Homo sapiens: one gene and its partners. The protein of the gene in region 6 purifies or fractionates together with the protein of the main gene of each other region. This does not show direct contact. Each region holds a gene or a part of one and is shown on either strand. Other genes may lie near its edges. The genes, in order: EIF3E, TRMT61A, ATP5MF, SORL1, GDPD3, DYRK3 and TPM1.

The links.
Region 1: the proteins of DYRK3 (region 6) and EIF3E purify together in Homo sapiens (affinity purification with mass spectrometry; one large-scale study listed by BioGRID and IntAct). This does not show direct contact.
Region 2: the proteins of DYRK3 (region 6) and TRMT61A purify together in Homo sapiens (affinity purification with mass spectrometry; one large-scale study listed by BioGRID and IntAct). This does not show direct contact.
Region 3: the proteins of DYRK3 (region 6) and ATP5MF purify together in Homo sapiens (affinity purification with mass spectrometry; one large-scale study listed by BioGRID and IntAct). This does not show direct contact.
Region 4: the proteins of DYRK3 (region 6) and SORL1 purify together in Homo sapiens (affinity purification with mass spectrometry; one large-scale study listed by BioGRID and IntAct). This does not show direct contact.
Region 5: the proteins of DYRK3 (region 6) and GDPD3 purify together in Homo sapiens (affinity purification with mass spectrometry; one large-scale study listed by BioGRID and IntAct). This does not show direct contact.
Region 7: the proteins of DYRK3 (region 6) and TPM1 purify together in Homo sapiens (affinity purification with mass spectrometry; one large-scale study listed by BioGRID and IntAct). This does not show direct contact.

The regions. Positions count from the first base shown.
Region 1 is NC_000008.11:108,213,880-108,218,220, reverse strand, and holds part of EIF3E (eukaryotic translation initiation factor 3 subunit E), read left to right. Parts: intron 1-760; coding exon 761-887; intron 888-1,707; coding exon 1,708-1,809; intron 1,810-3,504; coding exon 3,505-3,614; intron 3,615-4,341. UniProt on the Homo sapiens protein: Component of the eukaryotic translation initiation factor 3 (eIF-3) complex, which is required for several steps in the initiation of protein synthesis.
Region 2 is NC_000014.9:103,531,355-103,534,884, reverse strand, and holds part of TRMT61A (tRNA (adenine(58)-N(1))-methyltransferase catalytic subunit TRMT61A), read right to left. Parts: intron 2,304-3,530; coding exon 2,037-2,303; intron 336-2,036; coding exon 64-335; 3' UTR 1-63. UniProt on the Homo sapiens protein: Catalytic subunit of tRNA (adenine-N(1)-)-methyltransferase, which catalyzes the formation of N(1)-methyladenine at position 58 (m1A58) in initiator methionyl-tRNA.
Region 3 is NC_000007.14:99,457,425-99,461,002, reverse strand, and holds the end of ATP5MF (ATP synthase F(0) complex subunit f, mitochondrial), read left to right. Parts: intron 1-809; coding exon 810-917; intron 918-1,739; coding exon 1,740-1,856; intron 1,857-2,647; coding exon 2,648-2,676; 3' UTR 2,677-2,808; downstream 2,809-3,578. Other genes in the region: ATP5MF-PTCD1 (ATP5J2-PTCD1 fusion protein), read left to right, coding at 810-917. UniProt on the Homo sapiens protein: Subunit f, of the mitochondrial membrane ATP synthase complex (F(1)F(0) ATP synthase or Complex V) that produces ATP from ADP in the presence of a proton gradient across the membrane which is generated by electron transport complexes of the respiratory chain.
Region 4 is NC_000011.10:121,556,379-121,560,719, reverse strand, and holds part of SORL1 (sortilin-related receptor preproprotein), read right to left. Parts: intron 3,407-4,341; coding exon 3,315-3,406; intron 2,130-3,314; coding exon 1,883-2,129; intron 1,202-1,882; coding exon 1,063-1,201; intron 1-1,062. UniProt on the Homo sapiens protein: Sorting receptor that directs several proteins to their correct location within the cell. Along with AP-1 complex, involved Golgi apparatus - endosome sorting.
Region 5 is NC_000016.10:30,107,046-30,111,000, reverse strand, and holds part of GDPD3 (lysophospholipase D GDPD3), read left to right. Parts: intron 1-2,568; coding exon 2,569-2,628; intron 2,629-2,736; coding exon 2,737-2,788; intron 2,789-3,955. UniProt on the Homo sapiens protein: Hydrolyzes lysoglycerophospholipids to produce lysophosphatidic acid (LPA) and the corresponding amines. Shows a preference for 1-O-alkyl-sn-glycero-3-phosphocholine (lyso-PAF), lysophosphatidylcholine (lyso-PC) and N-acylethanolamine lysophospholipids.
Region 6 is NC_000001.11:206,637,974-206,642,314, reverse strand, and holds part of DYRK3 (dual specificity tyrosine-phosphorylation-regulated kinase 3), read right to left. Parts: intron 1-4,341. UniProt on the Homo sapiens protein: Dual-specificity protein kinase that promotes disassembly of several types of membraneless organelles during mitosis, such as stress granules, nuclear speckles and pericentriolar material.
Region 7 is NC_000015.10:63,059,747-63,064,053, reverse strand, and holds part of TPM1 (tropomyosin alpha-1 chain), read right to left. Parts: intron 3,186-4,307; coding exon 3,115-3,185; intron 2,857-3,114; coding exon of another isoform or gene 2,781-2,856; intron 2,342-2,780; coding exon 2,266-2,341; intron 1,840-2,265; coding exon 1,777-1,839; intron 1,479-1,776; coding exon 1,409-1,478; coding exon of another isoform or gene 1,245-1,408; exon of another isoform or gene 1-1,244. UniProt on the Homo sapiens protein: Binds to actin filaments in muscle and non-muscle cells. Plays a central role, in association with the troponin complex, in the calcium dependent regulation of vertebrate striated muscle contraction.

The DNA of each region.
Region 1 (4,341 bases), on a different chromosome or scaffold from region 6:
TGAATATTCACCTAAAAGAAATGGACTTTATTGACAGATAATTCTGAGATATGTATAGTGTCTGGCCCTCAGAGGTGCTAAATTAGTATTTATTGGGTAAATAAATAGGGAGCTATTTGAGGAAATTAAGCAGGAGAAATAAGGGTAAACACCTAATTACAGGGCATTGTCCCATGTTGATCATCACAACAGCAAGATTTGCTAAATATTAGCCAAGACCCTGTTAATGTTTACCTGACATCTATTCCTTCCTAATTCCTACTGCTACCACTTTAACCAATGTCTTGTAATATTGTAATATTCCTTCCCCGTTGCTTCCAGTCTTTCATCCCCTGAATTATTTAATTTAAGTGGCTGATTTTCTCATTAGTATGAGTGCTTTGCACATAGGTTTTCACACATTTTTTTCTAATGGGTGAATGAAAGTCATCGCTTAGTAGCCTTTTGGAACAGACTGACAGCATGTCAATGAACCTTGCAAAATCCTGTTACTCAAAAATAATAATAGGATAATTAGCCTCTTGATTGAGTCTTCCATCTCACCCCATATTAAAGAAATAGTGGCTAGCATTCTCCTCATTTGGATTCCTGAAACTGGATTCTGTTTTTAAATTTCCTTGGAGGAGATTTTCTTATAATACTCATTCTTAAGTGTTTGCAGTCTTAGGCTAGTGAAATAGTACAATCTAATGACCTGCTCGAGAGTTTTCTTTATCTCACCCTGGGTAAGTTATTAAATAACTTTTATATTTTTTCTTAGATATCTTAATGCAATTCAGACAATGTGTCCACACATTCTTCGCTATTTGACTACAGCAGTCATAACAAACAAGGATGTTCGAAAACGTCGGCAGGTTCTAAAAGATCTAGTTAAAGTTATTCAACAGGTAAAACTAAAATATATATTGATTTTTTTTTTTAAATACCTAAGCTTTAGGTCTAACCTCTTTTTCTAAGGTAAGACTTAGTTCTTAAGGTACAAACGTTTTTAAAAATAGGTGGAAGGAATACTTGAAGTTTAGAAAAGAGAAGACCCTCAAATGGGCTTTTGTTTTCCTTAAGTCCAAGATACACAAGTTGGATGTGGTAGGAATGATTATTACTGTCTGCTAGATGAACACTTAATATATACATTATGTGTATGTGTTTCTCTTATTGCAAAGAGTGAAGAAAATCTGGAACCTGGAGGTGGGGGTCATTACCTGTGTAATTCTACATGGGTGAACTTTATATACAATACCGTTTCAATAGACCCCAAGTTGGGCAAAAGGTTTCAGGCAGCCATGCTGATTGATATTTAGTGAGCTTGTCAGCAAAACCCGTAGATTAGAAATATAACTTAAATATTTATTTAAGAGTGTATTAAATACAAAGAAGTTATTGTCATTCAGTAGGGAATGAATACCCTTATGATTGGGGAAGTTTATTACTGTTTATTGACCAAGGGAGACTTTTGGTAGTAGAGGAATTTGAAAGCTTTCAGAATGCTTCTAGGATGAGACTTTAGAGAACTTGGTTTGAAAGACATAATAAGCTTAAGGTGTGGTCTGGAATCAGGATAGGAACAATTGTTTTGGGAAGATGCTAGGTAATTTGGCTAGAAATTAATGGTAAAGAAGGAGAAAACAAGAAGATTGGGATATTCTGGGGCAATCTGCTAAACAATGTTGAATCAGACTTACCTTGACCGTTGACTTATTTTTACAGGAGTCTTACACATATAAAGACCCAATTACAGAATTTGTTGAATGTTTATATGTTAACTTTGACTTTGATGGGGCTCAGAAAAAGCTGAGGGAATGTGAATCAGTAAGTGTGAATTTTTATTTATAAACTAATACTATTCTTAAATTTTTGGATATTGTAACGTTAATCTTGCAGTGTCTTCCTTAAAGTAATGAAGTAATTATAACGGAAATATGCTTATTAATCTTAAAAAGGCCTAAATGGCTCATGTTTATTAACCTTAAAATGGCTTAAATGGCTTGTGTTTATTAATCTTAAAATGGGAATGTGCTAGAGTGATGACTTTTTTAATGTTGTTGCCATGTGTTTATCCCTTTTGTGAGGGAGTTTGTTAAAACATTGGGGGTAATTTAAATTTACAGACATATCCATAATTTCATGTCTTAAATCTCGAATGAATATTTTTAATATTTCATATGTACAGGCAAGGTCACTTTGAATTGCAAATAACAACTGTGTTTTTAATTTTGGTTCATAGATGGGCTTATCTTTAGAATATTTCCCATGGTTGTATTTAACATTTGTGATAAACCAGGCAATTCATTGTAATTACGAATTTTATAACGGCGGTGTCTCTTATTGTTTAGTAGAAATTAAAGTACCTTTAGAGCAAATGGAAGACTTATAGTTGTTTTGAATAATTAGTTTACAAGTTTTAAGAAACTAAACTAAGAATTCTAACTGCTAAATGTAGTTGCATTTACCAGATTCACAAGTTACTGGTTATCAGTTTCACCCTTGGAACCAAAATTTTGGCACAAAATGGGCAATTTGTTGACAAATATCTTACTTCTCTAAGGAAAAAAATGATCATGCAAATATCCATTCCCTGATGATTTTCTTATTTTATTTTTTTTCAGACAGAGTCTCACTCTGTTGCCGAGGCTGGAGTGCAGTGGCATGATCCCGGCTCACTGCAAACTCCACCTCCCGGGTTCACACCATTCTCCTGCCTCAGCCTCCCAAGTAGCTGGGACCATAGGCGCCCACCACCACGCCCGGTTAATTTTTTGTATTTTTAGTAGAGACAGGGTTTCACCATGTTAGCCAGGATGGTCTCGATCTCCTGATCTTGTGATCTGCCCACCTCGGCCTCCCAAAGTGCTGGGATTACAGGCGTCAGCCACCGCACCTGGCCTCCCTGATGATTTTCAAACATTAGATGGAATAGAAAATTAGAATCCAATATGGTAATTGGTGTTTTTTTTTGTAGTCATATATTGCATTATTAAGGTAAATATTGGCGTATATTCATTATGCTAAGTGTCTAGGTTTTGATGTTAAAAGACCTAGAGGGTACTTGGTTGCTGTTCTTGAAATTAAAATATTCTCTCTTAATTACACCATCTGTGGAATAGTAGCCACCTTTTGCATTCTTTTCCTTCTAATTTCTAAGTCTACTTAATATTGTAGAAATACTCCGAGCTTGTAGTCCATTTATAATTATTTTAAATAGTTGGAAGAGATAACATTATCTGCAGAGCATTTATGTAGAATAATGGATAGTACCAAACTTTGTTGTCAGAAGGCTACTTTATTAAAGTTATCAGAAACATTGCAGTTTTTAGGTCTTTATCTTGTGGTATTCGTTTACTACTTATTTAAATCATTAAAGATTTGAACACAGTGTTCTAGAAAGTGCTGTGGTATAAAACTCATGATTGTAGAATGGAAAAATAAAGCAGATAAAGTATTTGATTCACGTTTCAGGCAATTGCTTGTCAGCATCATTAATTTTTGTTGTATTTGTACATATAGGTGCTTGTGAATGACTTCTTCTTGGTGGCTTGTCTTGAGGATTTCATTGAAAATGCCCGTCTCTTCATATTTGAGACTTTCTGTCGCATCCACCAGTGTATCAGCATTAAGTAAGAACACCGTGATTTGATTTGGATTTTCTACTTTAAAATTCCTGGAAATTTCCATTTATTGTGAATTTACACTTAATAGAATTCCAGTTAATTGGATTTTTATTTATTTTTGCTTTCAGAAGAACAATGAAACAATTTGATAAAATTATTTAAAAACCTAACTTTTGCTACAGGCTCAGATAGTTTTAGCTTGAGTGGCATAATTTTTCAAAATACTAAGTTGAAGGCAATATATGATTATCAGTTACCTTATTGAAGAGTAAATACTCTTGTACCTTTACGTAAGGAGAAAAGTGTAGTAAACATTTCTAAAATGGTTTTCAACAACAGTACAAAGGAGATACCCATTAAATTGGAAATTCTGTTGAAAGACCACTACATTTGGTAATCCTTTCCATTTAGTTTGTATGATTTAATTACATATTTGACTTCTCCTATAGTAAACTCCTATGGCATCTTAAAATGTTGAAAGATGGAAAAATTATAGTGAATTTTAGTTGTAATTTCCTGTTTTGTCAGAAAATATTGGGAAAAAATTGTGAAATGTACATAACCTATTAGAAATAAATTGTACACATTACAGTTTGAAAAATGACTAGTGCCCTTTGGGCACAGAGGAAGTCAAACAAATGTTTAAAAACCTACTGCTTTAGTGTTTGCTTCTGAGGAATTGTGCATAAAACAAATTCTTTTTCTTTAATGCCATTTGTTTTTGCTTATCCAT
Region 2 (3,530 bases), on a different chromosome or scaffold from region 6:
CTCTGGCCTCCCTGCCCAGCCCTTCAGTGCTCCCAGCTCCCTGGTGCCCTGGGAGGCGGCCCCCTAGCCTGGGGTCTTGGTGGCGAAGGTCAGGTAGCCGGTGTGGCCCACGGCCTCCTTCATGGGCGTGCCGCTGCGGAAGGGGCTGGTGTCGGAGCCGGCAGGGCCATCTGTGCCTGTGCCCAGGTCGGGCGGTGGCAGGCTGACAGTGCGCACGTTGTAGACCTGTGGCAGCACCTCCAGGGTGCTCAGCTCTGAGAAGCCGCGCGCTGCCAGCGCCTGGCATGTGCGTTGCACCTGCTCGATGCACGGTGAGAAGGAGCAGAAGCGCCCGCCTGTGGGAAACAGGACCCGAGGGTCAGAGGGCAGGGGTGGCAGAGCCTGGCCCGTCTGGCCCTAGCATCCCTGGACTCCCACCCTAGGGTCTGAGGCCAGCCTAAGACAGCCCCAACACAGACTGCAAGCTCTCCAAGAGCTGGGACTGCAGGGCAGAGGGGCCTGGCCCTCAACTGACAGCCCCCCATGGGGCCTGGCGCCGCTGTTCATGTCACCCAGCTTAGCCATGCCAGGCCCTCCCATGTGCCAGGCACCGGGTCAAGCCCGCGCTGCCATTGTCTCACTTGGCCCACAGCGGGCACTGCTCTCCTGCCTTCCACAGGGCTGCTGGAGCTCTGGGCCCGGAGCAGCTCTGACAGCACGGCAGCGTGGGGCGGTGCGGGGGCCGCTGCTGTCACAGGAAATTAGAGGCTGTCGCTGCTCCCGGGAACAGGAGGCGCCTACTCGAAGCAGAGCCCGAGCATGACAGCCCCTCCCTGCCGCCTCCCACCAGGGCAGCCACGGGCTTCACTTGGCCTGGCCTGCAGTGAATGAGAACCCAGCCCGGGTCCCTGTCCTGGCAGGGAGGACCTGGGGAAGCCAGGGCCGGGTAGAGGTATGTGGCCCAGGCAAGTGTCCTCAAACGTCCCTGAGGTTTGGTCTCCTCAGCTGTACCCTAACACGGGGCCGCCAGGAGGTTCGGGGTTAGAGGAGGCACCTGCTGTGTGACAACAGCCTAGACAGGGCACAGAGGCTGAGCATGCCGCATCCTCCCCAGCGGGCTCCCGTGGCCGGCAGGAGATGCCGGGCCCATGAATGAGCCAGGAGCCTTTGGACCCAGAAGGGGGAGCTCGCAGGGAAAGGGACAGGTCCCAGAGGCAGGCGCGGGTTCCCCGAGCCACGCTGGAGGAAGGAGTCACAAAGGCAGCAGGGGGGCCCCAGGGGAGGCTCTGCCGGGTTCAGCCTCCCTGGGACTATGGTCCAGGCCCAGAAGTGTCCCCAGAGCAGGAAGCCTAGGAGGCAGGGTGTGGAGATCCCCACAGCTACCCACCTCAGCAGAGACCAGGACCCAGGAGTCAGGGCTGGGCTGGAGCCAGCAGGGGACCCCCGGCCACAGCCTTGCTGTTCGCACCAGGCCTCGGCTCATCTTTGAGGTGGGGTGGGGCGCCCAGCACCTCCACCCTTCAACCCTCTCAGAATACAACTCTCAGCTGGGAAGAAGGAAGGGGCCCCTGCTGCCTGAGCTGCTCCTTCTCCAGAAAAGGGAAAAACCCTGGGCCTCCCAGCCACCTCCCTGGCTTGAGGCCCGACCTTCCCCAGGGCTGCCCCGCCTCCGCACCCAGCATCTTCCCTAAAAGGGGCCAGCTCCCTGGGCTCCAGAGCCTGGGGGAGGAGAGGTTTTGGGAAACAGCAGGGAGGGGACTCCAGACTCCTCCGGCCGGGCCTGCCCTGCACTTGGGTGGCGCTGCCACCTTCCTCCATCAGGGGGTTGGGAGAGGCCAGAGACCAGGAGCAGGGCCCAGCCAGGGACCATCCTCCCCAGCTCTGCCTCCCCTGGCCAGCCTGACCCACTCCTCACCTCAGGCCAAAGTGGGGCCCTGGCCTGGCCACTGCCATGGTGTGGCTTGGTCTCTGGACCCCTCTGAGATCCCAGGAGCTCAGTCCTGCACCCTTGCCCCACCCCCACCCAGGCTGTACCTCTCCCGGAACCCCGGATGCACCTTCGACCTTGAGGGCGTCCCAGGCGTGGCCCACGGCCTCCCAGGGTGATGGGATGTCCAGGAAGACGGCGTCGGCCACGTGGCTCACGCCAAAGCCACTGCGGCACACGTCCTGGGTGCGCACAGTCACCCAGCGGCCCACACGGTGCTCCTGGAACTCCTCCCGGGCCTTCTCTGCCCGCTGCTGGTGGAACTCCACCGTGTGCAGGTGACCCGTGGGTGCAATGGTGCGGATGATGGCGTGGGACACAGAGCCACTGCCGGTGCCTGGCAGGACAAGAAGGGATGGGCAAGGCATCAGTTGGGACTGCTCGGGACCCACAGCCTCCCAGGAAACAACCCCCACCTCACCCTGGAGACCCACACAGGGCTTGGGAGGACCCCAAGCTACAGGTGGGCGTCATTCCAGGGCTGTATGGTCCTGGCTGCCTAAAGCCCCAGGCTAGCCCTGGGTTGGGCACCCTGTCTAGGGGTGAGCTGGGGTTGACAGGCTGTGTATGCCGTGCTGTCTGTTGTGGGCACAGGCGAGGCCAGTGGCAACCCTGCCCTATCCTGCCTAGCGCAGGTATAGGGAATGAGAGCAGCCCAGCTGCCTGGAGCCTCCGGGGAAATCTGTGCAAGGGGGACAGGGAGGCCATCCCATCACTCAGCCCTGTCTTATTCCATGCATGGCCCATCACTTCCTCAATCCCCGTCAACAGTGGCCCACCCTGCCGGTCCTCATGCCCACCTCTCCCCAGAAGCTCCTTGGTCCCCTTGAGACAGCCCACCCCCACCAAGCCTGCCCAAACCTGCCCCCACCACACAGGGGCTGGGGCTCTGCCCTGGCCTGGTTGGACTCAGGACGCAGGGCCTGGCCACCAGCCACACGGCCCCAGTCCTCCCCAGCGCACCTGCCCCCAGCTTCCCTCCCCAGCTTCCCTCAAGATGGCCCCTCTGCTTGACTTCCTGTCTTATGGAGAGGGTCAAGGCTTGCATCCCTCCTCCCACTCCAGCTTCAGGGGCCATCTACCTGATGCCACTCCCATCCCCAGGCCCCTCCACTGGAGACTCCTGCTAGAGCAGCCACTGCACACTTGCCACCCATGCCTGGAACCCAAATAGCGCTGAGCATCGCAAGTGCTTGGGCCAGACCCATGGAGGTGCCTCCACTCCCTCTATCCCGTCCCACGTCCTGCCACCTCCCACATTCCTTTCAGGGGCCAGCCCCTCTCCCCACCTGTCCAGCCCCTCCCCTGGGTGCCCCCAGCCTGCTGCCTCGCCCCTCTGCAAAGCCTGGCCATGCCCCCTTCCCACTAAGGGGCAAGTCAGACTTGTTAGCCTCCGGGGTGGAGCTCGCTTCCCCTCCAACCTCACTCCCAGCCCCTCTGCCTCCCCCACTGAGCCTGACTCGGCAGCATGCTCCAACTGCAGGGCCTCGGCACGGCTCCTCCTTGGTGCAGAGCTGTCCCTTGGCTCTTCGTAGGTCCCTCCTCATCATTTTCAACTCAAATG
Region 3 (3,578 bases), on a different chromosome or scaffold from region 6:
GTCATTTGGAGTGGTTTTTCGTCACTTGACTTCTCGGAATGTGTTATCTCTTATTTTTATCTCTGGAAATTGTTGGTGTCCGTGGTCCCAGGATGCTGGAGGTGGAAATTCCTTGGGTTTCTTTCATTATACTTGCTCGGGCTGGCCCATCTGGTGAGTCTGCCAGCTGTGTGAACCCAGGTGCTGTTTGAAGCCCTTCCCCAGTAAACAAGTGCGTCAAGTCTGAGTGAGACACTTGGCACCGTCACACCGCTCTCCTTCCACATCCCCTCTTGTACGTTCTCCAGCGACACATCCCCAGGGTTGGACAGGGCACCCTCATATTGGCTTCAGGGACATAGGAGGGCCAGTCCTGACCCCACGTTGTGTGTGTGACTTTGGTCACGTGGCCCAACCTCTCTGAGTCTATCCCCCCTCCCCTCCTTTAAGGTAAAGACATGAAGTGCTTGTTGTGAAGATTAAATAAGCTAATAATGTCAAGTAAATGTTAGCTTTGCAGTAATCTTTCCTGTCCGCCACGTTACTGCTTTTTTCGAGACCCTTTTCTGGAGTTACTCCCAGCAAGCTGTTACTCAGACGTCCTGTTGGTTAATAAAGCTGTCCCTGCAGCAGTTCTGCTATTGTATAGACTCAGTCTTAAAATAGTGGGCTTGATGTGACATATTTCTTCATAATATTGTGTATGTGCAGCCTCTGTGTAATTGCATTATGCACCTTTATTGCATAGTTGAAGCAGTGGCAGGAAAGGATGCCATATGTGTTACTGGGAGATTATTCAGTGGGTATTTTTTCTCACTCTTCCGTTTCAGTACCAGTGAAGGACAAGAAACTTCTGGAGGTCAAACTGGGGGAGCTGCCAAGCTGGATCTTGATGCGGGACTTCAGTCCTAGTGGCATTTTCGGAGCGTTTCAAAGAGGTCAGAGCCTTGTGGATGTCTGTAAATGAAAGCAAATCTCTGGGTCTTCAGATCTCTTTTTTGCCATGAATTAATTTGGGCAATGAAGGCCTTGTTGTCTGAAAGCAGTAAGTTATGTAGAGGATGACAGGGAGGGATGCTAGGCCTTGGACTTCTGTGGTTGATTGGCCCTTTCAAAGGCTGGCTCTGAGATATTACAGCCAAGAACATGTTTCCTGTTGCTTGGAATCAGTATGTCTGCCTCTGTCTTAGAGAAATCCTAAGACTTCTTTAAGAGGAAAATGAATTGGAACCGTAGTGGGCATTAGTCTATAATATGATGCTCTCCTCCCTGCCAGAACTTCAGGACAAATATTTGAAATGGCCTATCTTGGCCTGGTGTGGTGGCTTATGCCTGTAATCCCGGCACTTCGGGAGGCCAAGGCTGGAGGATTGCTTGAGCCGAGTTTAGACCAGCCTAGGCAATATGGAGAGACCCCATCTCTATAAAAAAAACCACACAAGAAAAATTAGCTGGCTGTGGTGGTGCATGCCTGTAGTCCCAGCTACTCAGGAGGCTATAAGCTCACAGCCAAAGGGGAGAGGTGGAATCCAGGTAGGCCTAGTTCAGGAGCTGGTATGTGCTTATAGTTCAGGCTATGGGGATGAGAGACCTTACTGGCATTTGTGCTTGTCATCTTTATCAGCCAGTGAATGCAGGGCGAGGGGCTTAAACAGCCAGAGCAGGACTAGGTCCCTGAATGTCAGCCAGACTCAACTGTGTGCTCAACTTCACTCAAATGTGAAGCCCAGCAGGGCAGTGAGCGCCTCTTGCGTTTGCAGGTTACTACCGGTACTACAACAAGTACATCAATGTGAAGAAGGGGAGCATCTCGGGGATTACCATGGTGCTGGCATGCTACGTGCTCTTTAGCTACTCCTTTTCCTACAAGCATCTCAGTGAGTGCCTCTGCGGCGTCTTGCCTTTAGTTCCCATGAGAGGGTGGTGGTGACTGATTTCATTAGATACAGCAGCCCACCTTCTTCTGAGGCTGAGGGACCTTTAGTTAAAGTTCCTTATGTTTCCACCTAAAAGAATTGGAGGGACCTATCAGAGTACAGTATGTGGGATATTGTTTGAAATGAGAAAATTGTGACAAAGAGAACACAGGAAAATCAAGATGAAGCCAGGGTAAAGAGAGTACTTAGAAGCATTCTTTAAAATACAGCACACTGTGAAAATTTGGCTCGATTTTCCTAGTAGCCAATGCAGAAAGAGAAATGAGTTGAGTGGGATAATCTGGTACCCCAGAAAAGCATGGCTGTTCCGGCTCTGAGGCTTGAGAGGAGCTTGTCTGGTGGGAGATTGGCGGGAGGTGTCGGTGGCAGCCTCTGACTAGGCTGTTTCTGACAGTGTAGTGTACACCCCCTACCCCCACCTCACTCCCATTCTGTGGCACCAGGGCGGTCCTGCCTCTGAAGGACGGGTTCTCTGGGGCTGTTTGTCTGAGCGTGTGTTCCCTCTGTTCCTTCTGGAAAGAAAGTGGTTGGCCAGGTGGCAGGTTGGCTCCTGAGGTGTCTTTGTGCCCCCCGGGTCTGCTGATTCTGCAGAGACACCGGCAGGCGGGTCATGGGTCATCTCTGAAGGGAATTCTCAGGAAGGCTTTGTGTGATCTCAGCCTGCTTCCTGCCATGCTGTGCCTTCACTGTAACCTTTTAAGATACTTACCATCTTGCCTTCCTGACTTCAGAGCACGAGCGGCTCCGCAAATACCACTGAAGAGGACACACTCTGCACCCCCCCACCCCACGACCTTGGCCCGAGCCCCTCCGTGAGGAACACAATCTCAATCGTTGCTGAATCCTTTCATATCCTAATAGGAATTAACCTCCAAATAAAACATGACTGGTACGTGTGCTGATTGCCTGCCTGTCTGCCGTAGCCATTATCCCATGTTCCAGGGGCTCCTGTGGCACAAGGTGGGGGGAGGTCGTCTTTCCAGGCCGTTGACCGGTGAAGGCCTTTGTGGACTTCCCAGACCACCACTCTGGTCGTGTCCCAGCTCCCTGGAGGGCAGGGTGTCATCCAGACCTTCCCGAAGCAGCAGTGCCGAAGTCCGTCCCTTGCCATGAGTGCTGTGGGCAGGTGCATTTGCAGACATTCTGGCCTTTAGTTGGCTGGCCCTTTATGGTGTAACACAAAGGCTTGCGTACCTGAGAGCGCCAGATCCCACCCCGGCTGTCCTGTGGCTCCAGGCAGGGATGGCCCGCATCCTGTGTTTCTGCATCACCCTGGGGCATCAAGGGCTACAGGGTGAGGTGACCCGGCACTGTCTGGAGAGACCTCAGGCAGCACTCACGCCCAGGCTGCAGGGATTGTGGCCCTCCGGCTGAGGCGGCTTCTCTAACAGGAGGCTTAGTGGGTTGGGGGTGATGGGGAAAAGTGAGGGGCTATGGCGGCCCCTCCCTGCTTCCTCTTCATCAGAGCCTCATTGGGGGTGGGATACTGTGCCCCAGAAATAGGTGCCACCAGACATCTGAGCTGAGGTGGAGGACCTGCCTGCTGGCTCCACAGATCAGACTCCCAGACTTGACCAGCTGCTTGCAGGCCTTCTGGGCAGCTGCACTTCCCTTTGTGAGGCTGACATTTGTTGAAAGGGACAAGAAAGCTACGCCGTGATT
Region 4 (4,341 bases), on a different chromosome or scaffold from region 6:
TCTCATGCTATCTTCACAATCCCAAGAGGATAACAATGATATCTATAACAGTATTATTTCCCCTGTCAATTTTCTCCTAGTATAGGGTCAGCCAAGAACCATAAAACAATATCAACATTCCAGTTAAGAACAGAAAACTTAGCAGTTTGTCAATAAAGGAGAATCAGCAAACCCAGGATGCCATTTAATCCTGCTGAGATAAAGAGGGAAATTCTTAAAGGGACTATTCTTCCTGGTAATCCTCTGATCTTTCTCCTCTAGAATCAATAGTATGGCTGGGAGATAAGCAAAATCAAAGAGCAGTCATGAAATGATAAAGGCTTTCCACTGAATAGTCTCAGACTCCAGGACTAGCAGGTCAAAGCCTCATAGCAGTTCTTGAAGCCTCACCCAGTAGATCTCTAAGACAGCTACTGTCTGCACCCACTGCAATTCTTCCCCTCCCTTTTCATCCCTTATTCTTTCAACAAATATGAATTGAGCACCTACAAAGTGCTAGACACTGGTAAAACTATCGGGGAATAAAAAAGACCATCTCTTTCTTCATGGGGTTTAGGGTTTCATGGTGGGAAAAGTTAATTAAAACAACACCTAACTACACAGTGCCATTCCAGCAGAGGTAGGTACGGTCAATGAGCAATAGGTCATCTGGGCAACCAGAGAACAAGCAAGAGGCCCTGTCAGGAAGCAACAACTATCTGAGCACCCAGCACAGAGTCTCTTCCTGCAAGCATGCCAAACAGGGATTAAGCACATGTTAGGACTCTCCCAGCTGCAACAGAAGCCGCGCCACCAATCAGTCAGGGGCCAAGGGCAGGAGGAGGGTGTAATTACCCACCAAGCACCAACACTCTAGGCAGGCAAAAGCATGCTGTCTTCCAGCTGTTTGTGTATCATTAGAAAAGAAATTAAGATGTCATTAGGAAGAAATTAAATAATGTGCATGTTGTCGTGACAACAAAGATGCAGGCTGCCAGCTCCTACTCTGAGCAGAGATTGGCCACACGCAGCCCCTTTCTTGAGATCAACTCTACAGAGACAAAAGAAGAGACTCTGGCTTACCAGTGTTCTTCCCCTTGTAGAAAATCTTCATGTCCATGAGCCCCGTGAGCTGGTTTGCCAGAATCTCCATCTGGGACCCACTGTATTTGGAAGCTCGGAATATGCTGAGCTGTGACCAGTCATCCCAGTAGATTTCATTCTAAAAAGAAAACCTTTGCCCATTAGTCCAGCTCTTTCGTTCTTTATTCTGGTTCTCTCTAAGGGTAAGAGTTCCCCCAGGCAGGAGACAACTAACATTTATTGGCTGAATGACTAGCCTGATCAAGATTCTACTTAAATGCAAAGGACAGCAATTTTATCCAAACCTCACCATATAACCCCACAGAAGAAACTGCCCAAAAGAAACTATCTGATAAGCATTCAAGTTTATGACACAAACCCAACCCCCTCAGTTTGAAATCTGTTTCCCAGAGTTGGGAAGAGCCATGTTGCTCTCCAGAGTCGAAAAAGAACTGCAAGGCACTATAGGTGGTGCAGAGCTCACCGGAAGTCATCAGAGAATAAAGTGAGCAAAGCGCACAAAAAATGAAGACACCACCCTGAAATGAGGCTACTGACACTGAGGGGCAAACTGGGAATGTTCATGGGAAGAGCCTTCACTTTTAACCTTTTGAAATGTGAACAGCAGGGGAGCCTGGACCCTTGGCGCCTCTGCCTGGCATCCCTCCATAGGCTGAAAATAAGTTATCTCAAATTTGGAAAAAAGGCAACCTTTAAGAAGTTAAACAGCTTCTCTGCAAAGCCCAGGGATGCAGGCTCCTGATCTCATATGCTCCTCACCCGCTCTAGCAGACTGTCCGGCAGCAACAAATGGACTCACCTTAAAGACAGCAATGGCATAGGGGTGCGGGAGGTTGTCCAGAATGACAGAGCGCTGCTGGCCACTGAACGTGATCCGCTCTATGCACTCCAGGTAGGCATCCGTCCAGTAAATCCACTGGTCGTCCACAGAGATGCCATTGGGCCACTTCACATCCTCAGACACCAGGTGATAGGCAGCAGAACCATCCATATTGCTCCGATAAATCCCAGGCTTCAGGTCTCCCCAGTCTGTCCAGAACATCACCCTAGCGAAAATGGGGACAGAACACATACCTCATCAATACTAGAGAAATGGGAGCTCAAATACTACTCCAGAAAAGGTCAGAAACTCCTTTCGAATGATCCGGCTGGTTATTTCAGCATTATTATAACAATATGTAATGACAACACCTGAAACTACTTAAATTCCTTCACCTGGAAATTCCTTTACTAGAATTTATCTATAGATAAAATCAAATTATGCAAAGATAATATACAAAGAAATGTATATGTATGTATATTAAACTAAATGTTAATCAGCAGAGGAAGTGACACATTATGGTACATATAATAGAATACTGTGAAACCTAAAAATCTATATATGCTCACACAGAACTATTTTCAATACATATTAAGTTTGTTTAAAAAGGTACAGAATAGTAACTACACTACAATCCTATTTGGCGTGCATGTGTGTGTATATGTGTGTGTTTTAAAGATAATACTTGTACATAAGTAAAAGCAATCATGAAAGATACACAAGACATTATTAACAATGATTACCACTAGGAAGTGTGAGGGTAAAGGGTTAAGAATGAAAAGGAAGAATGCAAATTTTTTTCATAAAGTGCTGTTCTCTCTAAATATTGTCAACCAAGTACATACATTACTCTTAGAATTTTCCTTGAAAAAAATTGTGCCAATTCTCTATCATAAATGCTACGAGAGAGGAAAAGCCAGAATGTCAAATCCAGAATTTCCCTCTTAATTATGTTTCCTTCAGTTAATGAGTTAATAAAAAGCACCTTTGCCTTCCCCAAGTGCACACTGATTGTACGTAAGAAAACCTACACATGCTGGGAAGGCAGGGGAAAGATGGAATGAATTAAATGTTTGTACCATGCATGAAACTCAAGAGAAAGTTCTCACAATATCCAAGCAGGCCTGTCTATGTCTACAGAAGCTCTCTTTTAACATCAACTTTTCTAGAGAAACAACCCACAGATGCAAGACATCTGGATGCCTAAAGAGACTCTGACACTGGCTAACAAAAAGCGAACGGAGTTACCTGACCACGATGACTAAGCTGTGGTCTCAAACTTCTCAGTTAATAGACCATTTCAACCACCATCATGAGAAACAGAGTTTTTGTCCCGCAGTCTGTGTTTCCATGAGAATCTATTAGTGTAGCATTGGACGCAAGACTGATTTCCTTTTGGGGCAACACTTACCCCTCTTGGGGCACGAGGACCAGAGCCCTGGGACGATCAAGCACAGAGGAATTGACGATTGTGAGTCGGAAGTCGCCATCTGGATTAGCTACCTGACAAAAACAGGGGGAAAAGAGGCTGAGATGGATCGGAGCTCCTTAAAGACCCCCATTGCCAAAGATGGCTACTCAGCTTCTGCTACAGACATGCCCCCTCCATGCCTGCCTATTTCCCTGACCTGACCCATCTGCGAAACCTGCCCCAACTTCTAGTCACAATGCGCTGTTCCTTCCTCTGACTCATGGGACAATTTTCAAGTGGTCTGAAAGAGGAGCTAGAACCATGTAAGCCCCAGTTTCCAGGGCATGATGATCTGGACAAAGCAGTATCAATAAGTAAATTACTCAAATAAGTAAATAAGCAAATGAGCATTTACTTATTTCACCATCCCGTGTCACTCCACGTTCCAAGGCAATCGATGACTCCACACTCCCATAAAACAAATTCTCAATGTCACAGCCTTGCAATGAAGAGTCCACAGGTGGGACTCATATTCTTGCTCCTTCCCGTCAGCCAGGCTGGTCATCTCTTGCTTCTCCAAGCCTGATGCGGACTCACTGCTGTCTGCTCTTGCCACATCCCATCCTGGGCCTACCTGCCCCACTGCTTAATCTAATCAAGGCATAACTCTCCTTCAAACCTCACTGCCAGGCCTGCCTACTTTCCTAACTCTTCTGACCCACCTGGACCAATAAGCATCAGTAGCTCTGCACCTTGGCTCATCTGACACCATTTTGCACCAACAGTATTTGAGTTGTGCAGTGGTCGCCCCACAGCCTGTGAAAAGGTGGGTGCTTGTGCATCACCTGCATTCTTTTAGCCCCTAGCCAAGTGCTGACCACACGCAATTAAAGAAAGGAGAGAAAGAGCAATAACATAACCACCGAGGCAGCATTCAGTAGATGCCAGTTCACTTCTATCAGCATCCCCAGGAGGTGGACAAAAGATCATCCTCTTCTCAGCCAGGGCTCAGCTAAGACATCAACCT
Region 5 (3,955 bases), on a different chromosome or scaffold from region 6:
CAGGAAAAGGCCAAGTCAGTGTTCTGCAGGAAGGCAGGGGTTAACAAAGTAACAGCTGGGGAAAGGATCAGGAATTTGGATACTTCGCTGGCACTTAAGCCTAGTCCCTCCCTTTGCTTTACAATTTTTTTTTTTTTTTTGAGACAGTCTTGCTCGGGCTGGAATGCAGTGGCCAGATCATGACTCACTGCGCCTCGACCTCCTGGGCTCAGGAGATCCTCCTGCCTCAGCCTCCTAAGTAGCTGGGAGTATAGGCGTGCAACACTGCACCTGGCTAATTGTTAAATTATTTGTAGAGACAAGGTCTCACTATGTTGACCAGGCTGCTCTTGAACTCCTCAGCTCAAGCGAGCCTCCCACCTTGGTCTCCCAAAGTGCTGGGATTACATACCTGAGCCCCTGGGCCCGGTCTCCCTTTGCTTTCTGACAGCTTCTCTGTGGTAGTCCCAGAGCTCTCTGCTCCCCTCTGTTGTCCAGAAGGAAGTCCCACTCAGCCCCCACAATACCTTGCTACAAAGAGATCAATGATATTTGTGTACCACCTTTTTATACCGGATTTTTTTTGTGTTTTTTGAGGAGTCTTCCCCTGTTGCCCAGGCTGCAGTGCAGTGGCGTGATCTCGGCTCACTGCAAGCTCTGCCTCCCTGGTTCACGCCATTCTCCTGCTTCAGCCTCCCGAGTAGCTGGGACTACAGGCGCCCGCCACCACACCCGGCTAATTTTTTTGTGTTTTTAGTAGAGATGGGGTTTCACCGTATTAGCCAGGATGGTAATCTGACCTCATGATCCGCCTGCCTCGGCCTCCCAAAGTGCTGGGATTACAGGCGTGACCCACTGCGCCCGGCCTTATACAAGATTTATAAAGTGTTTTAACATATTTTGGGTTGACTTTTACCTTGCAGCACCCCCAGGAGGTATAAGAATCATGACTCCCATGGTACCCTAGAGAATCTGAGGCCCAGAGAGGTTCTGTAATTTGCCCAAGGACACACAGCTGGAAATCCAGAGCTTAGGTTTTCCCTGGGTCTGACTCCAGAGCCTGCCCTAGGACACTGTCAAGGGTCTCTAAAGTCACCCCTGGAGTGGGATAATTAGGGGTCGTCCCACTAAGTGCTGTCTGGTCTCAAGAAGCTGGCCAATGGGCACAGTGGCTCACGAGGTTTTTTGTGGGTTTTTTGTTTGTTTGTTTGTTTTTGAGACGGAGTTTTGCTCTTTTTGCCCAGGCTGGAGTGCAATGGTGCCATCTTGGCTCACCGCAACCTCCGCCTCCCAGATTCAAGCGATTCTCCTGCTTCAGCCTCCCAAGTAGCTGGCATTACAGGCATGCACCACCATCCTGGCTAATTTTGTATTTTTAGTAGACACAGGGTTTCTCCATGTTGGTCAGGGTGGTCTTGAACTCCGGACCTCAGGTGATCCACCCGCCTCGGCCTCCCAAAGTGTTGGGATTACAGGCGTGAACCACCGCGCCCGGCCATTGTTTTTTGTTTTTGAGAAGGAGTCTCACTCTGTGGCCCAGGCTGGAGTGCAGTAGTGCGATCTTGGCTCACTGAAACCTCCGCCTCCTGGGTTCAAGCAATTCTCCTGCCTCAGCCTCCCAAGTGGCTGGGACTACAGGGTCTGCCACCACGCCCGGCTAATTTTTGTATTTTTAGTAGAGACGGCGTTTCGCCATGTTGGCCACGCTGGTCTCCTCCCACCTCAGACTTTCAAAGTGCTGCGATTACAGGTGTGAGCCACCACACTTGGCTGGCTCGTGCTTATTATCCTGGCACTTTTGGGAGGCTGAAGCGGGAGGATTGCTTGAGTCCAGGAGTTCAAGACCAGCCTGGGCAACATAGTGAGACATGTCTCTACAAAAATTTTTTAATGGCCGGGCACGGTGGCTCACGCCTGTAATCCCAGCACTTTGGGAGGCCAAGGCGGGCGGATCACAAAGTCAGGAGATCGAGACCATCCTGGCTAACAGGGTGAAACCCTGTCTCTACTAAAAATACAAAAAATTAGCAGGCGTGGTGGCGGGCACCTGTAGTCCCAGCTACTCAAGAGGCTGAGGCAGGAGAATGGTGTGAACCCAGGAGGCGGAGCTTGCAGTGAGCTGTGATCGCACCACGGCACTCCAGCCTGGGCGACAGAGCAAGACTCTGTCTCAAAAAAAAAAAAATTAATTTAAATTAATAATAAGATAAATAGATAAATAAGAAGCTGGCCAGGCCCAACCAGGAGGGCCTGCAGCCTGGATGTCCAGCTTTGGAACCAAGCGAGGCCCTGGCCCAGCCCCACCACCACTCTGCTTTGGGTCTGGCAAGTCCCTTTCGTTCTCTAAGGCCCAGATTCCTTATCTGGTGAATGGTGACTGGAGGGCCACACCCTTGAAGCGTGGTGGTCAGAGTAGGCTCTCTGAACAATGGGTGAATTGTTCACTGGGGCAACTACAAAGGTTATTCTGGGGGATTCTGGGGGGTGGGAGGGCAGCGCTACCCTAGTTGGCGGGGGCACTACCAGCCCACCCCACCTCTGGGACAGGGGAGACCCTAGGAGCTAACCCCCACTTCCTTCTCTCTGCAGGACCTATTTCCCATTTTCCTGCTCTTGCCTGAACCAGTTATTGGCTGTGGTTTCGAAATGGTGAGGTGGGCAAGATGGCTGGGTGGCGTGTCCCCATAGAGACCTACTGCTGCCCTTCTCCCAGGTCCCCTCTCATCATCACCTCCCACGTCCCCACCCCACCCCCAGGCTGATCATGAGGAAGAGTCTGATCCGACACTTGGAGGAGCGAGGGGTGCAGGTGAGGCCGTGACCACCACTTCCACCGCACACAGACCTGGCAGCAGGGTTCCGGTCCCACTCTGCTGCCAACTAGCTGCATCACTCGGGCAGGTGACCTCACCTCAGTTTCTTCGTCCCTAAAATGGGAAAATGGTATATTTAACTCTCTGGATACACACACACACACACACGAACACACACAATTTTCTTCTTCTGTGTGTGTGTGTGTGTGTGTGTGTGTGTGTCAAGAGTCTCACTCTGTCACCCAGGCTGGAGTGCAGTGGTGCAATCTCGGCTCACTGCAACCTCCACCTCCCGGGTTCAAGCGATTCTCCTGCTTCAGCCTCCCCAGTAGCTGGGACTACAGGTGCCTGCCACCATGCTTGGCTAATTTTTGTGTTTTTAGTAGAGACGGGGTTGCACCATGTTGGCCAGGCTGGTCTCGAACTCCTGGCCTCAAGTGATCCACCTGCCTCAGCCTCCCAAAGTGCTGGGATTACAGGTGTGAGCCACCACGCCTGGCCACGCACATATTTTCTTAACCTGACATTGCCAACATATGGATATGTAACTAGTACTTATTAAGGGCTTGATAAATGTTAGCCATTATGATGACAACAATGATGTATCATGATCCCTGATGAGAGGGGGCTGGGGAAAGATGAGAGATGGGAGAAACCAGGCCCAGCCCACCCCCCTCTCCCCTGAGCATTGGCTTCCACCAGATCATTTAATTAGTAAACGATCCTTGAGAATGTTCCAGGCACTATGGTACTAGGGGTGGGAGCTTCCCATCAAGGGTACAGGGAAGAAATGCCATAGGCAGAGGCTGGGCACGGCTCCCACCTGTAATCCCAGCCCTTTGAGAGGCCAAGGTGGGAGGATCACTTGAGCCCAGGAGTTTAAGACCAGCCTGGGCAACATACTGAGACCCTCGTCTCTACAAAAAATTTAAAAATTAGCCAAGCGCAGTGGTTTACACCTGTAGTCCCAGCCACTCAGGAGGCTGAGATGGGAGGATCACCTGAGCACGGGGTTTCGAGGGTGCAGTGAGCTATAATCAGAATCACGCCACTGCACTCCACACTCCAGCCTGGGAGAGATAGCCAGACTGTCTCAAAAGAGAGAGAGGAAAGAGCGTGAGAGCCAGAGACAGGGAGAGGGAGGAGAGGGAGGGAAACAGGAA
Region 6 (4,341 bases):
GCGTTCCTATTTCTCCACATCCTCTCCAGCACCTGTTGCTTCCTGACTTTTTAATGATCGCCATTCTAACTGGTGTGAGATGGTATCTCATTGTGGTTTTGATCTGCATTTCTCTGATGGCCAGTGATGGTGAGCATTTTTTCATGTGTCTGTTGGCTGCATCAATGTCTTCTTTTGAGAAGTGTCTGTTCATATTCCTTGCCCACTTTTTGATGGGGCTGTTTGATTTTTTCTTGTAAATTTGTTTAAGTTCTTTGTAGATTCTGGATATTAGCCCTTTGTCAGATGGGTAGATTGTAAAAATTTTCTCCCATTCTGTAGGTTGCCTGTTCACTCTGATGGTAGTTTACTTTGCTGTACAGAAGCTCTTTAGTTTAATTAGATCCCATTTATCAATTTTGGCTTTTGTTGCCGTTGCATTTGGTGTTTTAGACATGAAGTCCTTGCCTATGCCTATGTCCTGAATGGTATTGCCTAGGTTTTCTTCTAGGGTTTTTATGGTTTTAGGTCTAACATTTAAGTCTTTAATCCATCTTGAATTAATTTTTGCATAAGGTGTAGGGAAGGGATCCAGTTTCAGCTTTCTACATATGGCTAGCCAGTTTTCCCAGCACATTAAATAGGAAATCCTTTCAGGGAGGGGTTCTCTTCTTAACTTTCTTTCCTTTCCTGTAAATAACTCAAATACTGGCCTGAATCAATTACATATCAAGTCTGATGTGTTATAAATAAAACCTTCCTTCCATTGTTCTAAAAAAATCTACAGTGTTCACACATATTAAACTATAATTGTTTTAAAACACTAAATATTTCCCCAAATGCCCATCAATCAAGGAGTAGATAAAGAAATTATGGTATATATATATATACCATAGAATACTATTTAGCCATAAAAAAGAATGAAATAATGGCATTCACAGCAACCTGGATGGAATTGGAGACCATTATTCTAAGTGAAGTAACTCAGAAATGGAAAACCAAACATGGTATGTTCTCATTCATAAGTGGGAGCAAAGCTATGAAGACGATGAAAGGGCTTAAGAATGATACAATGGACTTTGGGGACTTGGGGGATAGGGTGGTAGAGGAGTGAGAGGTAAAAGACTACACACTGGGTCTAGTATACACTGCTCGGGTAATGGGTGCACCAAAATCTCAGAAATCACCACTAAAGAACTTATTCATGTAACCCAAACACCACCTGTTCCCCAAAAACCTATTGAAAAAAAAAACACTAAATATTTCTAGTCTAGGGTTATAATCACAATAACCAAGCAATGTATATGACTGACTCTACCAAGTATTTTCTTAACCATGTAATTATATCCAGAGACATGAATAATGTCATATTTATCATGTTTTATTTCATAAGAATGCTTCACATACCCTGCTAATTTGATGGGCTTCTGGCATTTTAAATAGAATCTTCTACTGTATTAATCAAGTCTTAAAAATCTTGCTGAGAGGCCAGGCACGGTGGCTCACGCCTGTAATCCCAGCACTTTGGGAGGCCAAGGCGGGCGGATCACGAGGTCAAGAGATCGAGACCATCCTGGCTAACACGATGAAACCCTCTCTCTACTAAAAATACAAAAAATTAGCCAGGTGTGGTGGTGGGTGCCTGTAGTCCCAGCTACTCGGGAGGCTGAGGCAGGAGAATGGCATGAACCCAGGAGGCGGAGCTTGCAATGAGCCGAGATAGTGCCACTGCACTCCAGCCTCAGTGACAGAGCGAGACTCTGTCTTAAAAAAAAAAAAAAAAAAAAATCTTGCTGAGAAATTGAAAAGGAATAAAGGAATATCCTTCTCACTCAGATATAAAACCCTACCTTTTCCCCAGCTCCCAAACCCTAAATCCCTGTAACACAAAACTTAACCCAATAAAAGCCTATGGGCAGATGATTTATAGTTTACCATGAGAATGTAGGAGCATCTTGAATAAATGAAGCTAGAAAACTTTGTAAAAAAAAGTAACAGGATCTCGGGATAGAGTCATGGCATAATGAAATGTAAGTGGCACCAAGAGGTCAAAAGGCATTTTTTATTTTTATTTTCTTTTTCAGCAAAATGAGTAAAGACAGCCAGGCGTGGTGGCTCACGCCTGTAAAGCCTGCACTTTGGGAGGCTGAGGTGGGTGGATGACCTGAGGTCAGGGGTTCGGGACCATCCTGGCCAACATGGTGAAACCCCATCTCTACTAAAAATACAAAAATTAGCCAGGCATGGTGGCAGATGCCTGTAATCCCAGCTACTTGGGAGGCTGAGGCAGGGAGAACTGCTTGAACCCGGGAGATGGAGGTTGCAGCAAGCCAAGATTGTGCCACTGCACTCCAGCCTGGGCGAGAGAGCGAGACTCGGTCTCAAAAAAAAAAAAAAAAAAAAAAAAGAAATGAGTAATGAGTAAGACATCTAAAATCTTCTTGCTCCCTCACAAAACTGTCATGCCTAACACCATGCAGTAAGAAATTAATTTTTGATCCTGAAACATACAATGTAAGTAACCTACTGGAAGGTAAATAGCATCGGCTAACTCTGAATCAAAGTAAAAATGACTTGGCTGGGCGCGGTGGCTTGCGCCTGTAATCCCAGCACTTTGGGGAGCTGAGGTGGGTGCATCACAAGGTCAGGAGTTCAAAACCAGCCTGACCAATACAGTGAAACCCCATCTCTACTAAAAATACAAAAATTAGCCAGGCATGTTGGTTGGTGCCTATAATCCCAGCTACTTGGGAGGGTGAAGCAGGAGAATCACTTGAACCCGGGAGGTTGCAGTAAGCCAAGATTGCGCCACTGCACTCCAGCCTAGGTGACAGAGTGAGAGTCCATCTCAAAAAAAAAAAAAAAAAAAATCAGTTAAAATGACTTAAAGTCAGATGTTAACACTTCAACCCAATTGCAAATAGTTTCCTATAGAGGTGAACCAATTGGCAGCAAGTAACCAAGCAATCTGATGGGCAACACAAGATGTATATGGTTCTGAAGTTCTTAGACATTTTGACATATTAAAGAAACAACTTGCAAAGAATGGAAAGAAACCCCACTACACTCCAAAAAGGGGACGAAAAATAGGGTGACCAGCCTTCAAAATATTTTTAGCTCACGTTTTGTATACTACTAGTGTTGAAAGTGGGGAAAGGGCCGGGTGCGGTGGCTCACGCCTGTAATCCCAGCACTTCCAGAGGCCGAGGGAAGTGGACCACTTAAGGTCAGGAGTTAGACCAGCCTGACTAACATGGTGAAACCCTGTCTCTACTAAAAATACAAAACTTAGCTGGGTGTGGTGGCAGTCGCCTGTAATCCCAGCTACTCAGGAAGGCTGAGGCAGGAGAATTGCTTGGACCCGGGAGGTGGAGGTTGCAATGAGCTGACATGACACCACTGCACTCCAGCCTGGAAGACAGAGTAAGACTGCGTCTCAGGAAAAAAAAAAAAAAAAAAAAGGAAAAAGGTTGATTTTAAGCAAAAACTGATGACCACAGGAAGGACTATGAAAAATAGAAGTGATTTTTCCATATAGAAACAATTTCAGGTCTTAAACACAGAAACGTGAAAGAGAAATATTACAAATGAGTCAATTCAATTATTCAGTTTGTTCATCTGATGACATATGCAGGAAATTTTAAAGTCATAGGATAGCCTCTCTTTGTCATGGAACTTGGCCAAACCCTGCTCTGCCTACCACTCTATGCATGCTGAAGGAATGCAAATTAATTTTATCTTAAGTTAAAAAAAAAAAAAAGCTGCCAAGCACGGTGGCTCACGCCTGTAATCCCAGCACTTTGGGAAGCCGAGGCGGGTGGATCACGAGGTCAGGAGTTCAAGACCAGCCTGACCAACATGGTGAAACCCCTGACTACTAAAAATACAAAAATTAGCCAGGCGTGGTGGCACGCGCCTGTAATCCCAGCTACTCAGGAGGCTAAGGCAGGAGAATCACTTCAACCCGGGAGGCAGAGGTTGCAGTGAGCCAAGATCATGCCATTGCACTCCAGCCTGGGTGACAGAGAGAGACTCCACCTCAAAAAAAAAAAAAAAAAAAAAAAAGCTAAGTGTCTGCAGTCCCCAAAATGATTAAGTGCATTAAAAACCAAACTGTTGTAGTTATCATCTATCTATAAAATGGTTCTCTTTAGTATACTAATAAACGAAGACTGCATTTCCACCGTGCAGGGGAAAAAAAACTCCTGCAGATCTATGAATTCTGACATGTTTTCTGTTTCTTATTTTTGTTAAAAGGAGCCTTTGTAATACTAGGTGTATATCATCCTATACAAAAATAAGCATTACCTAAATAAAAGTAGCATATTATTTTTTTCCTAGTGCTATATATTTATCCCAGTG
Region 7 (4,307 bases), on a different chromosome or scaffold from region 6:
GAAGTGGAAGGCAGAGGTGCAAGAACATGGAGAGTGATCAAGAAATGGAGGGTGAGTGAGGGTGGTGCGCGCACCATCCCAACACAGCAGCAAGAAAAGGGCAATGCATGAAGGGGTTGGTGCCGCAGCAGGTGGCCAATGCAGGAGGCGTGCGTTTTGTTTTAAGTAAATTGAAACAAAAACAAAGAGAACAAAACCCATTAGAAAATAAAATGAAAAAGACTCAATATGAAAATCCTAACAAATATGGTAGGTATATCAGTAAACCATGTTAAATTGTAAACGAAACCACAGAAGGCTGTCTCCTGGTGAGGGGAGGCAGGGGCTAATGGAACATCTTTCTTTTGCAGAGCTATATTTTAATTACACTGGAGTAGTCAGGCATCTGCAGCTATAAACAATGGGAAAAAAATGCAAGGGCAGTGTTTTGGAAGAACAATTTGTGACTACAGCCTGTAGTCCTTATCTGGTTCCACCTTCAAACCACTGACTTCCTGACCACACTAGACCACTGGGATAGCGATTTCTTAGTGCCATTTAAGCTACTCCTGTGGTCTTCCCACTCAAGCTGCCTATTACTGGTCCAGGAGGCTTGAAAAGCAATGGGCGCCACACTTTATATGGCAAGTCTGCAACTTAGTTTTTGTAATGCTGCAGGTTTCATACTTTGCTGCACTTTGGCAGATCATTTTGCAACCATTTGTCATTCTCTCTTCTCCACTATTTTGGTTATTATCTGCACCAAACACTAGTTCCTTCTCTAATCCCTTCTGTGATGTAGATATTTGTCTTTTTTCTTTCTTGTTCACAGCTAATCCTTCACAAGCTTCAAAGCTCAACATTTAGGATATCTGTGAGATAGAGTGGTTATTACTAAAATAAAACCTAAGTGCCTTAGGGAAGAAATGCTTAAGTATAATTTTTCCCTCCTCCTTCAGGATATAAAGTATTTTGTTAAGATAATATATGACTTAAAATAACCCCTAAATCCTTACTTTGAATTCATACTTGGAAGAAGATGGGTTCTTCTAAAAACAAGACCACAATCACCACATCATTCCCAATTTAATTAGGAAGTAACACTAAAGATATAAAATATACTAGAGTCATTCTCACCAATAAGCACCTCACTCACAGTGAAAAATAAACCTGCCACACTTGTAATGAGCATGAAGTCAAGCTGGATGGCATTTGCCACTATGGCTGGTGGCTAACTAGTCACCTCGTGAGCAGAAGACTTAGGTTCATGAGTTCAAGAGCCACAGAGAAAAACCCCAGAGGACACACAGGAAGAATGTGCAAGTGCAAAGGAGCGTATCAATGTGGATGCCCTTGAATTGGAAAATTGTTTTGCCAGGTTGGTATTCAACCATAAGGATTAAACTAAAAACACTACTTAAGATCTTACCTTCTAAGTCATCAATGCTTTTCTCCAATTTAGTTACTGACCTCTCCGCAAACTCAGCCCGAGTCTCAGCCTGTAATGATTTATTTGAGTTAAAGTTGGGAAGTTTTATGTTTCCTGTAGCTACAAACATAGGGAAAACTAGAGGATGAAAATGAAGCACATCACCTATAAAATGGATCAGAAACTACTTGTCAGTTTCAGTCACCTCTGTGAGAAATGGCAGTTAGCACAGTACATAAACTCCAAGGCGACCTTTGAATATTCCTGACTTGGATCATTGGAACTTTAAAATGAAAAGGCCCTGACCGGTTCCATGAAAACAAACTCATTTAAAATCCAGTTGGCTTCATCCACAACTCTCATATTACCTCCTTCAGCTTGTCGGAAAGGACCTTGATCTCTTCCTCATATCTGTCTTCCTTCTGCGAGTACTGTAATTAGAAAGAGCATTCCAGATGTCAGGCTGCAGCTCAATCTACTCATGGCTTCTCATGCAAAGAACTCGCCAGCTCAGCCAACAGATGTTAAGGATCTCTTAGGAGGTAATGGAACCTCTGATATCAAATGGCACACTGCAATACATTCTCTGCTTTCTTGCCTATTGTTTTACATGGGATAACAACAAGATAACTTATCCACTTGGCACTTGGTTTAAATTAAATTGATGCCTCATATCCCTAACATAAAATAAATTCTCTAGTTAAAAAAAAGAATTTGTTATCTAGTAACTCTCCAAAAATCACCTCACAATATTGCCATTTTACTAAAATGTCTACTGTAAGTGTTGCTTTCTGGCAGGGCCTCTTTTGAGCAGCTCTTAAAAGATGCCTTTCCCCCACACCATCCTCCTGGCCTACCTTCTCAGCCTGAGCCTCCAGTGACTTCAAGTTGTTCGTCACAGTTTTCAATTCTTCTTCAAGCTCGGCACATTTGCTAATGTTTTCGATCAGAGGCAGAAAGGGTGGGAGACAAGCCAAAGGAAGGAGGAGAGAAAAAGGAGAGGGATGGGAAAAAATGAAAACTGAGTCCTAGAGACGAAGGGCTGCCTTAAAGTAGCCAAATCATCAGGTATTAAAATGTTTAGGTTTTCCAGGAACACTGCCCCCCAACCTCGCAACAGCAGAAGGCAGGGTGACCAAATCCAACAACTTTGAAGTGCGATAATTTGGCTCCTTTTTTGGCTGCCCAAAGAGCATTTATGAAGGGAAAACAAAGGAGCATAAAGGACCAAGGGAAAGCACTTAAGGCAAGATATAAATAGCAGAGGGTGAAGTGAAGGTGCAGTCGTTATACCAAACGAACCAGGAGGCATTGGAAGCTGAAAGATGTCTGGGTTGCAGTTAAACCTAAAAACCACACGAGCCATCAGTACCTTATCCTCTGCAGCCATTAATGCTTTCAAGGTCTGATCCATTATTCTTAATTGTTCTTCCAGCTGTCGGACTTGGCTGTTAGTGGACACAGGAAATGCACAAGGCCATTCACAAAATCAGTGTGCAGGTAAGGCATGCAGTGATACACGCATTCATACATAAGACACCCCACACGAGTCCTCCATGTTCCATACTCGTGGCTCATCCACATCAAATGAGCACAAAAGGAGCCCGGAGCTGAAACAGGTAATGTGCAGCTGCCAGAAGGTCATGCTGTTTAGTCACTGCTCTGCAGCACCCCATTCGTGGCCTCCTGGCGCCGGGCCCGCTTACCCTTCTGAGAGCTCAGCCCGCTCCTCTGCACGTTCCAGGTCGCTCTCAATGATGACCAGCTTACGGGCCACCTGCAGCAGGAAGACACAACACACACACCATGGGTCTTGCAAGCTTTGTGTAACAGAAGGGCATGGGGGTAGAGATCAGATCCCATCAGGCCCTAAGGGTTTTGTCTACAAACAATATGATCCTCTTTCTGGTAGACCAGAGAGAAGCAACTCTCTATTAGGAGTGCCAGCAGAGAGGAGATCAGAGGCTTCTGCTTTGACTCAGAATGGTTAGCTGTGATTGGGCAGTCTCAATTGGAAGTCTGACCTAGGTGAACCGGCAGCCAGACCAAAATGTGGAAGGAGGGATAAAATACACATTCACAATCTCAAAAACAGCAGTAGGATGAGACATGTACTAAAAAGGTGGGGGCTGCCAGGAAAACAAAGTAAACCTAAGAACTCCATCAATTTGATGGCTGATCTGTGCATCTACCTCCTTACTGCAGTGGAAGAATACAAGAGACACTAACGTGAGACAAGTTGGTGAGATAACTGACAAAATCAAATTTGTATTTAGTGGAAGAACCAGAGAGAGGAAGGGAGCCTCTGAAGCAGATCAAAACTTGTGAGCATAGTGTAATCTGAAGGTAATAATGGTAATAAAAAGGAGGGGCAATGCTGTTTCAGGATAGCCACGATGTGATCCAATAAGGAAAAAACAGAAACCTTAATAATCAAGTTGCCTCTTATCACAGGAGGCTGTTTTCATGGGGACACGACCAGGAGCAAATTCTGCTGAAAACCTGCGTTGATAATAGTTTTCTACCACCCTTGAGGAGAGAGGCCTCTGTGAATCCACTGAGAAACTGTCTGTGGTCTCTAAGCTGCCCAATCTGGATGTGCCAGGTCACTCTGGGAAGAAATGACTTGCACCATGACAGCATGAGAGCCTCCTTTCACAAGACACAGGGCCCAACTCTCCCTTCCGGCCAAAGATCTTTTGTCCGGGTCTTTGTGGCTGGGGGAGAGGAGTTTTGGTCCTTCTTCGCAGTGCTACTGATTGGCTTCCTGATAAAGCCTGGGATCCCCTAGCAGGATTAAAATTAGAACCGTTTTCTGGACACAAAGGAACTCTGCTTCTCAAAACCACCCATTTCTGCCAACAAAGCAGATGGCCTCACTCGGGAATCAAGACTGTAC